3 linked regions of the Homo sapiens genome follow. The protein of the gene in region 1 interacts with the protein of each later gene in a pairwise test. Each region holds a gene or a part of one and is shown on either strand. Other genes may lie near its edges.

Region 1 (3,500 bases):
TGATGAGAAAGAGTGGGGCGATGATGAAGAAGGTAAGGAGCTCTTGAGAAATTGTGTTTTGAAACGTCTTAAAGTTAGAGAAGTTGCGAATACAGTATGAAGAACTTTCTTCCCTGAACCGTTACCAGCTTGATACCCATTACCCTTTGATCACTGTTAGGGTGTATGTCTTGCAAACAAGGGGCCCTCTTCTACATGACTAGAATGCAGCCATCAGAGCCGGGGTTAGCAATGAGCTATGGGTTCCCATTTATCCTGATAATGTCCTTTGTAGTGAAAGGATCCGGTTCAGGATGCACTATTGTGTTTAGTTGTCCTGTCTCCTGGATCTCCTTGAGTCTGGAGCACTCCTCAGCTTTTTTTTTTTACTCTGATGACCTGCAGTCTTGTAAGGGGGCAGGCCAGTTGCTGTGTTGTGCCCCTCAGCCTGGGTGTGTCTGATGCTCCCTAAGCATTGGATTCCACTCATGCATCTCGGGCAGGAATAGTGCACAAGTGCTCCTGTGGCCTGCCCATTGAGTCCCATCAGGTGGACTGTGATTCGCTTTGTTCCATCACTGGTGATGACCCTTTTGAGAATTATTTATGCTGATTCTCTACTTATCCCAGGTTTGGCTAGCAAGAGTTCCTTCACACAGGCTTCTATGTCCCTTTGACCTGTCCCCTTGTTCTTTGATCATTTCCTTACCTTCTAGCACACAATACCCAAGGGTCATCTTATACTTTCCATAACTCAGCCCTGGAATCCATCATTTCTCCAAGGTTCCTTTGAGTGATGAGTGGTATTTAGAAGGTGCTAGTTGTGCTCACTGCTGTTGGTTATTGTTCTGAGGCCTGAGTGGTCGAGGGTAGGGAGTGTGTGTGTGTGTGCGTGTGCGTGTGCATGTGTACACATATTTATGACCATATTTACTTGTGTAACTATTTGTATATACTGAAAGTCATGATTTCACACCAATACCTCCAGTTCCGGTCTAACACCACAGGGTTCCCCTTCACACTTGCAATGCCCTTCTCTCTCTTTTTAAAATTTATTTATTCATTTATTTTTGAGACAGAGTCTCGCTTTGTTGCCCAGGCTGGAGTGCAGTGGGGTGATCTTGGCTCACTTCAACCTCCGCTTCCCGGGTTCAAGTGATTCTTGTGCCTCAGCCTCTCAAGTAGCTGGGATTACAGGCATGCACCATCATACCTGGCTAATTTTTTGTATTTTTAGTAGAGATCAGGTTTCGCCATGTTGGCCAGGCTGGTCTTGAACTTGTGGCCTCAAGTGATCTGTCTGCCTCGGCCTCCCAAAGTGCTGGGATTACAGGTGTGAGCCACTGTGCCCAGCTGTGTCACGCCCTTCTCTGACCTTGAGAAACTTGGCTCCCTCTATTCTCAGCATCCTCAGTTACTCCACCCGGCCCCTGTAGGTATGTAATCAACTTCCTGTGCCTGCCTCCCCTTCTCATATGTGCCATCCCCACCCTGTTTGGTCTCCCACACCCGGGGCCAGGCACGGCCCTGCATGGACACCCTTGCTTCTTTCACTCAGGCTTCCAGATCTAGGCTGCTGGGTCCCTGTCACTGCCCCATGCCTGCCTGTCTTCTTCCTTCCATTCAGGCTCTAGCATCCCGCACCACTGCTGCAGCCCCAACCCTGCACAGACCTGCCAGGCTTGGCCCTACTTTTTTTTTTTTTTTTTTTTGAGAGGGAGTCTCGCTCTGTCGCCCAGGCTGGAGTGCAGTTGCGTGATCTCGGCTCACTGCAACCTCCGCCTCCTGGGTTCAAGTGATTCTCTTCCTTCAGCCTTCCAAGTAGCTGGGATTACACTTTGCCAGCCACCATGCCCAGCTAATTTTTGTATTTTAGTAGAGACGGGGTTTCACCATGTTAGCCAGGCTGGTCTTGAACTCCTGACCTCAAGTGATCCTCCCGCCTTGGCCTCCCAAAGTGCTGTTATTACAGGCATGAGACACTGCACCTGGCCTTGGCCCTGCTTTTAATGGTTCTGACTTAGTGGAATTTTCCAGCAGTGTTTCTTTCACCCTTGTAATTTCAGGGACGGGCAGCTCTGGGTCATATTTATTTCAGAGAGTCAGTCAAGGTAAAGAATTGTCTCTGGTGGCTGGGCGCGGTAGCTCATGCCTGTAATCCCAGCACTCTGGGAGGCTGAGGTGGGCGGATCACCTGAGGTCAGGGGTCAAGATCAACCTGGCCAACATGGTGAAAACCTGCCTCTACTAAAAATACAAAAATTAGTTGGCTGTGGTGGCGGGTGCCTGTTTTCCCAGCTACTCGGGAGGCTGAGACAGGAGAATTACTTGAGCCCGGGAGGCAGAGGTTGCAATGAGTAGAGATCATGCCGTTGCACTCCAGCCTGGGAGAGAGAGCAAGACACTGTCTCAAAAACAAAACAAAACAAAAAAAAGAATTGTCTCTGGACTTGAAAGGACTCTGTATACTTTCTTAATACAGATGTGTGAGCCAGAGAGAACTGGGAATGGAGTCATCCATCGTTGAGTTGACCTTGCTTGCACACCTTGTTTGGGCTTTCCTAAATGACTGAGGATGGCTCATTGCTCCACTGGCCTCCCAGTTTGGCAGAATAAGGCAAATGTGATGTGTGACCGCAGTGGTGTGTGATCAGGGCATGGCGTGTGATCAGGACTGTGGGAGATGGCATTGTTAATACTGGTGGAGGCCAAAGAAGGCACTAGTGGGTCAACTTCGTACCAGGAAGACTGTGGGGGAAGAGATGCGGCATCCAGGGGGAAGACCGAGTGACTGTGGCAGCGAGAAGGGAAGGTCTGAGCTACACAGGGAGGAGCCAATGTTAGTACAGCCTGAAGGCACAGCACAGCCTGGCATTTTCTGTGAGCAGCAGATAATTGGGTTTGAACTCAGATGCATTAGAGAGGGGTGGGGCAGTGGTCGAGGAGGCTGGAGTGGTAGGTGGGCCAGTCAGCTGGACCCAGCCCAGGGACACTCTTGAATACAGTAGCAGTGTGCAGGGCTTACGTTGCATTGGAAAGGCAGCGGGTGAACTGATGGGGAGGTCTGTTTGCCGGAGGCTGATGTCTGTTGAGCTTCAGTACTGGCCCTCTGGAGGCAGTGGTGAGGACAGACTGCAGTAGAAGATTGTGGTTAAGCTCTCTTAAGGACACAAGGCCATATTGAAAGTGTTTTAGAAACCACAGATCCTTTGTAGTGCTTTCCAAAATGTGCTCCCTGGGGCACGGGTATCAGTCACTAGGGTGCTTTTCCAGTGCAGATTCTCATGTCCTATCCCAACCCTGCTGATCTGGGCTTTGTAGGAGAGGGGCCCTGGAATTTGCCTTCTGAACTTTGAGATCCACTGACCTTTTGTATAATTAAGAGTGGACAATGGGGATTTATGTTATTACTTCCACTTGATTGAGCCCACTTACCCGAGTGTAATTGGGGCACAGAAAGTCGTGGGACAGGTCAGGCGGATCACAAAAGACTTCTCGGGGTGGTGCTTGCCCCTCCGAGT
Region 2 (3,500 bases), on another chromosome or scaffold:
GCTAGTTTGGCCATTCCAAAGCTTCCCTGTCCCCTACAACTGACCCCACAGCCAGGGTCAGCATCATCTATAAGCACAGCCCTCTTCATCAGGGCAGACACAGCCCCAGAAGATGGGACTGGGGGCCTTGGAGAGGGTTCGAGCAGCAGAGGCTCACCCAAGGCAGGATCCAGCCTTTGGAAAGGAGAGTGACAGGGCAACATGACTCACCAGTGCCTCATCAGTCAGCAGCTGAGCAGCCATCCCTCTGCTGCCCACGGTGAATAGGAAGACAGGCCTGCGGTGACCAACAGTGCTGTAGGGAGAAGAAAGAGGGAGGCATGCTGAGAGACCAGGCCTAGGCTGGCCTCACAAATGTAGACAGGACAGACACACACCCACTGAGAGACAAGCAGAGACAGACAGATAGACACACATACACATACATCAACAGTGAGTATTTAGAGGGCTTACTGCATGTAGGGAACTTGAATGTATATCACTTGATCTTCCAACCATCCTGGAAGGTAGGTACTACTTCTACCTACCCATTTCACAGATGAGGAGGCTGAGGCCCGAGGAGATTAAACCACTTGCTCAAGATTACAGAGCTGGGACTGGAGTCAGGCAGAGTATGTCTGGGTCCACAGCTTAGCCTCCAGGCTACAATGCCTCACAGATGCACTCCCATGTACACTCCTATAGATATGGTTAACACACATACACTCACACACATTCCCGCAGGCTGCTGAGGGCCACCGGACACCCTGCCTTCTCCCAATGGCCCTGCCCGGATCCCTCCTTGAGTGTGAGTGCTGGACTGAGGCCCCCTGAGATGCCCCAGAACCACCTGTGGCCTCTTTGGGCACTTCCCCCAGACTTCATGGGGTTACCATGAGGTTCAACTAGCAGATATGAGTGTAAGGAACTTCCACCCAGGGGCTCTCAGAGCCAGATTCGCCTAGAGAAATGCATCTTGATTCAATTCTCCTCCAGTTCTCCTGACAAGCTCAGGATAAAGTCTCAAGTGGAGAGATATCTTAACATCCCTGCAACCCATCACTCGCCCCTTGAAACAAAAGAAAAGCAGGAGAATAAGATCCTGTGATTTGCAACAACATGGATAAAACTGGAGGTCATTATGTTAAGTGAAATAAGCCAGGCATAGAAAGACAAACTTTGCAAGTTCTCACTTGTGTGAGCTAAAAATTAAAACAAACTCATGGAGATAGAGACTAGAATGATGAAGAAACCTGAGGCTGGGAAGGGTAGTGGAAGGGTGGGGGGAATGTGGGGATGGCTAATTGGTATTAAAAAAATACAGAGGGCCGGGCGCGGTGGCTCACGCCTGTAATCCCAGCACTTTGGGAGGCCGAGGCGGGTGGATCATGAGGTCAGGAGATCGAGACCATCCTGGCTAACAAGGTGAAACCCCGTCTCTACTAAAAATACAAAAAATTAGCCGGGCGCGGTGGCGGGCGCCTGTAGTCCCAGCTACTCGGGAGGCTGAGGCAGGAGAATGGCGTGAACCCGGGAAGCGGAGCTTGCAGTGAGCCGAGATTGCGCCACTGCAGTCCGCAGTCCGACCTGGGCGACAGAGCGAGACTCCGTCTCAAAAAAAAAAAAAAAAAAAAAAATACAGAGGGTTGCAGTGAGCCAAGATTGCACCACTGCACTCCAGCCTGGCAACAGAGCGAGACTCCATCTCAAAAAAAAAAAAAAAAAACAAACCCCAAAAAAACAAAAAAACACACACACAAAGAATGAATAAGACCTACTATTTGACAGCACAACAGGGTGACTATGATCAATAATAATTTAATGATACATTTAAAAATAACTGGCCGGGCGCAGTGGCTCATGCCTGTAATCCCAGCACTTTGGGAGGCCGAGGCGGGCGGATCACGAGGTCAGGAGATCAAGACCACGGTGAAACCCCGTCTCTACCAAAAATACAAAAAATTAGCCGGGTGTGGTGGCAGGTGCCTGTAATCCCAGCTACTCGGGAGGCTGAGGAAGGAGAATGGCATGAACCCAGGAGGCGGAGCTTGCAGTGAGCTGAGATGGCAACACTGCACTCCAGCCTGGGTGACAGAGCGAGACTCCATCTCAAAAAAAAAAAAAAACAAAACACTAAAAATGTAATCAGATTGTTTGTAACACAAAGGATAAATCCTTGAGGTGACAGATACCCCATTTATCCTGATGTGATTATTACACATTGTATGCCCGTATCAAAATATCTCATGTACTCCATAAATATATAAACCCACTACACACCCAGAAAAATTAAAAATTAAAATTAAAAAGAAAAGCAGGGTTCAGGCCCCAAAGTTAGGGTGACCATAATATCTCATTAGAACTACCTGGCTTTACTTCAATTTGTTTTAAAGTTTGTTTCCCTTCTTACAGCAAAACTCAGCTTCTTTTACAGCAGTCACACAGAATACCCTTTTAAACTAAGTTGATTTAAATTAAAAACAAAAAAAAAATCAGTGAGCCAAATCAAGTAAATGGCAAAGTAAAAAAATAGGATCCATGACACAGATGAGGACAAATTCTTGGAGTCTGAGACATGCTGGCTCAGTCCTGGCTTCTCCCGTGATGGGGGCTCACTACCCGTGCCACCAACACCTCTGACTGGAAATGAGTTTTTCTTCTGCTATAAACAGAAACATGCCTCTCTACATCTCCAACCCTTCAAGATCACCCAGAAAAGCCTCAATCCTCTCCAACACAATGCTCTTGTAGCTGGTGCACCAATTCTCAAAGTACCAGAATCACTGGGGATGCTTATTAAAATCTCACTCAGAATATATATTCCTGCCCCCCACCTCAGATCCTCTGAATCAAACTACCTGGGTAGGGCCCCTGAATCGGTATTTCTAAGCAAGTTTCCCAGGTGATTCTGACACGTCTTAAAGCGTAAGAACCACTAAGACAAAGAAGAGCCTTTCTTAGGCCAAATGGCCCCAACTTCCACAAGTGAAAAGTAATTTTAATTGTAGGGGGGCATATATATAAGGCCAAGTTGGCAGAAGCCTTTGGAACTCAATCGGGAACAATTCTGCCCCCGGAGACATTTGTCAACGTCTAGAGACATTTGCCAAACTGTCATAATTTGGCAGGGGAGTGCTATGGGCGTTTAGTTGGTAGAGACTGGGGATGCTGCTACACACTGTACGATGCACGCGACAGGCCCCACAACAAAGAATGATCAGGCCCAAAGGTCAGTAGTGTGGAGGTTGAGAAGCCCTGTTGTAGAACAAAAGGATCACAAAGGTGTGGGCTGGGGGTTCCTACCACTTAATGCCTGTACCCGGGCACCACACCTGGCCAACTGTAATCACTCAGTGAAAATGTCCTCTGGGCTAAAACTCTTCAAAACTCTTCGTTGGCTTCCCCCACCATTAGAAATCACTCAAAGTCTTCACTGCTGCCCACATAGCCCTTATGATGTGCCCCTGATGGCCTCTCCCCTTCCATCTCCTCTACTCCCCTCTCCCATGCTTGGCCCCAGG
Region 3 (3,500 bases), on another chromosome or scaffold:
AATAGTGACTCGTACAAGGTCACATAGATTAATAATAATATTTGTTATTTGTTAGACAAATACAGCTTTCCCAAAGCCACAGTGAGACTCAGTGAAAACTGTTGAAGCGTCTAGCCCATTTGATGCTCAGTGAAGCACTCTTTACCTAAAACAACCTATTCCTTAGATGATATTTAACCAGCTTCTGTAAACCCATTTATGTTCACAATATATTTTTCTGAGGTAACCCACTGCCATTAGGTTTTTCTCCCTATATTTGTTATGATCAGAGAATGGGAATAAGCATCACTCAACTTTATATTCCCAAAAGGTAAACGTAGAGATAGTGCTTTAAAAAATCATTTTCCCAAGGACACCTGCCCCTTTAAATGTACCCCTTTAAGTTTTCAAAGTCTGTGTTTTCACTGTGAAGGACTTTGCTCTCTTTAGACAGGCTCACAATCAGCTAAGAAGAAATATGAAGATGGTTCCACAGAGTCCATAAGGGAATCAATGAAATCAATGATCCCCAGGAGAAGCAAAGGCTTTTGCCAAATAAGTCAGCTTCCTGTGGAGTGATTATTGGGACAGGCAACACTATAGTCTCCATTCATAGTTGTGTTTCTATTTTTATTCCTTTCAGCACATTCCTCCTCCAAATGAGGAAGGGACAAATTTCCAAAATAAAGACTACTTTTTAAAGGAGCAATATAAATCAATCATTTTGTGACAATGATATTGGACCTTTTACTCTTCCCAAACCCATACGCCCAACCATCAGTCAGAGCCCTTGCAACACATGTAGATTTAAACAGACTGATTTCTTCTGAAGTGATGCCCCCAGAATGGAGTGAAATCATATCGCATAACACTTCTTTCACCAAAGAGCTACACTTCTGAGATTTATTAGCTCTCTTCCCTTATTCCTAAAAAATGGGGTACAGCCTGGACTACTTATGGAAAAAATTAACATTCAGAAAAAAATCTTCCAGCAAAAAATATATTGCTCATCAATTAGTATTTGCAGGTTGCTTGTAACTGTGAAGTTTGAATTAAATTATCAATAAAGCACCATGTAAAATGACTGCACACAGTCATTCTTTGATTTCTCTTATGTGCATGATGGGGGAATTCAATATAAACTGAGAGTGTTTCATAAAATTTAAAATGAATGAAACCAGATTACTCCATACATATGCTATTTTTTGGTCAAAAGTTGAATACTTTTAGACATTGCACTGACCCTTTCAAAACATTCATGAATGACTTATAGTCGATGTCATTTTTTTCATGACATGGGTGCTCTAAGAGTCATCTATATAGTCCCTTATAGGGTCACACAATTCCTGTCTGAAATCCAGTGGTGTGGAAGGCACTTGGGTGATGCCAAGGTGAAGCTAAGCATATTAGGTGGGCAGTTCGCTCAGGTTCCCAATAGGTTTCTAAGGCTCACATCATTTAATTCCATTTTTTCTTTCTCTGTAATTAACTCTCCAGATAAACACAAAATGAAGAGATAGATTTCTCAATACAGCTGTTTTTGCTTTATTTCAATGGACGATGAATCACTGAAAAGGGGATAAGGAAAATGTTACATATTTAGGTTCTTTCCAAGACATTATTTGGATTTAAACATAGGACCATTGCATAGAGGTCGTAATGGGAAAAAAAAAAAGAATTTTAAAAAAAGAATTTAAAGTAGAATGTGTCTTTTAATTAGTCATATATTCTTTCTTGATTATATAAAAACACTCATACTTCAATCCTAAAGAATCTGAAAACAAACAAATAAGAACAGTTTATTAATTGTTCTCAAACAAGACTTACGTTGAGAGCAGTCACTGCCAATCCAACCGGGGTAACACTGACAAGATCTGTCAATGGGGTTACAGGTTCCGTTGTTGGTGCAGGTACAAATTCCTGCACAGTTTTTCCCAAATCTGCCACTGGGACACACTGTGAATAAGCTATAGGTCAGTAACTCACAATCAAAACCCCTCTCGCAGAACCCTAGAATCTTAGCACAGGAAATAACTTTAAAGGTCACAGGCCCAGCTGCTCATTGGTAGCTATCTCTGCTCAACAGCATCCTTCATCTTGAATGGGCTCATTTTTACAAATCCATGAAGCCAAAGATTTGCATTAAGGCATCACAAACCAGGGGACATCATTGCACTTCTAGAAATATGACTTCACGACTTCTTGCTCTGGGAGTCTAAAATTCTTCCGCATATTGATTTTTTATGGGAGGACATGTCCAGCTAAAACTGAAGAGTAGCACATCTCAGGAAATAAAAAGGTTTTGCTGGAGTGGCAAGCCAGCTTTTCCAAAGCTCAAAGTCCTATCTGAGAAGCTGCAGACACAGCACAGCAGAAGACATTCCCAGCAGACAGCTGAAAACATGGCCTTCAGGAAGGCCAAGGGGAGGCCTGAGGACAGACTCTCCGGGGCGTGCTCATCACCACCCAGCTGTCCGGGATGCTTCGTGCCTTACCTTCATTGCAGAGGGCGCCTGTGAAGCCAGGCAAGCAGTCACACAGGCCGGTGATGTGGTGGCAGGGCCCGCTGCTGTGAACGCACTGTGGGCATGTCTGGCTGCAGCGATGCCCATAAAAACCAGGGGAGCAGACTGAAAACAGAAGGGAAATCAGCAGTTATCCTTCTGAGATGCGTTTGTCTCGCATTCCAGATCGGGATCTAGTTAAAGTTTTAGAGGTTAAAAAGCAAAACCTTAAAAAAAAGTAAAAAAGATACGGAGAATTTTCCAAGTAGAAAACAAGAACAACAAAGGAACAAAGGAACCCTTTAATGAGGAAAAGAAGCCACTAAACTCTGAGTTTCTTGAGAGCAAGCAAATGTCTTAGTCTTCTTTATTTTCCCATTTAAGGCCCCAGTTAGCTCAAGTCTTGGCATAAAGCAGGGCTCCAGGAATTTTCATTGAATAAATAAAGAGATAAAAAAATTGAAATACTAATAAGTCTCAAATAAGTACTCTCAAACCATTTGTTGATTCTTTATTCTTTAAGAGTCGTTTCTGGCAATAAAAATCGATCAACAGTCAAAATTTGAAGATTTTTCCTCCTCAAAATGGTCCAGGTTAATGACTGTAATCGAAAAGTGATTAACCAAAATGCTATATACTTAAGTTCTTGCCAAGATACTATTCAGATTTAAATATATGATAACTGCATAGAATTCTTATGGGGGGAAAGGCAATTTAAAAAATTAGAATAGTATAACTTATAATTAGTTACATATTCTTTTTTGATTGCATTTACTAAAAGATTACTTAATCTTCTAACTCAGAAGTCTTAAGGACCAATGTCAACAGTCTCCTTTTTCAACTTTGCAATTCCATTTTCCCCATAGCACTGATTTTAAGACTACTAGCAGGATGAATGATTTGCCTCAAGGTTTGGCTGATGTTGACGTCTGGTAATTGAGGTAAGGCCAATGCCAAACTGCTGAATAACATATTTACAGGTCAGTGAATTTCTAGAACACCATTCCAAAGCTTTCA

Evidence for each region.
Region 2: the proteins of SART3 (region 1) and ZNF71 interact in binary tests that used the Homo sapiens proteins (3 or more experiments, as listed by UniProt).
Region 3: the proteins of SART3 (region 1) and MEGF10 interact in a two-hybrid assay, tested with the Homo sapiens proteins (one large-scale study listed by IntAct).

Annotation. Positions count from the first base shown.
Region 1 is NC_000012.12:108,526,674-108,530,173, reverse strand, and holds part of SART3 (spliceosome associated factor 3, U4/U6 recycling protein), read left to right. Parts: coding exon 1-32; intron 33-3,500. UniProt on the Homo sapiens protein: U6 snRNP-binding protein that functions as a recycling factor of the splicing machinery. Promotes the initial reassembly of U4 and U6 snRNPs following their ejection from the spliceosome during its maturation.
Region 2 is NC_000019.10:56,598,302-56,601,801, reverse strand, and holds part of ZNF71 (endothelial zinc finger protein induced by tumor necrosis factor alpha), read right to left. Parts: intron 296-3,500; 5' UTR 244-295; coding exon 211-243; intron 1-210. UniProt on the Homo sapiens protein: May be involved in transcriptional regulation.
Region 3 is NC_000005.10:127,433,796-127,437,295, reverse strand, and holds part of MEGF10 (multiple epidermal growth factor-like domains protein 10 isoform a precursor), read right to left. Parts: intron 2,610-3,500; coding exon 2,475-2,609; intron 1,936-2,474; coding exon 1,807-1,935; intron 1-1,806. UniProt on the Homo sapiens protein: Membrane receptor involved in phagocytosis by macrophages and astrocytes of apoptotic cells. Receptor for C1q, an eat-me signal, that binds phosphatidylserine expressed on the surface of apoptotic cells. Cooperates with ABCA1 within the process of engulfment.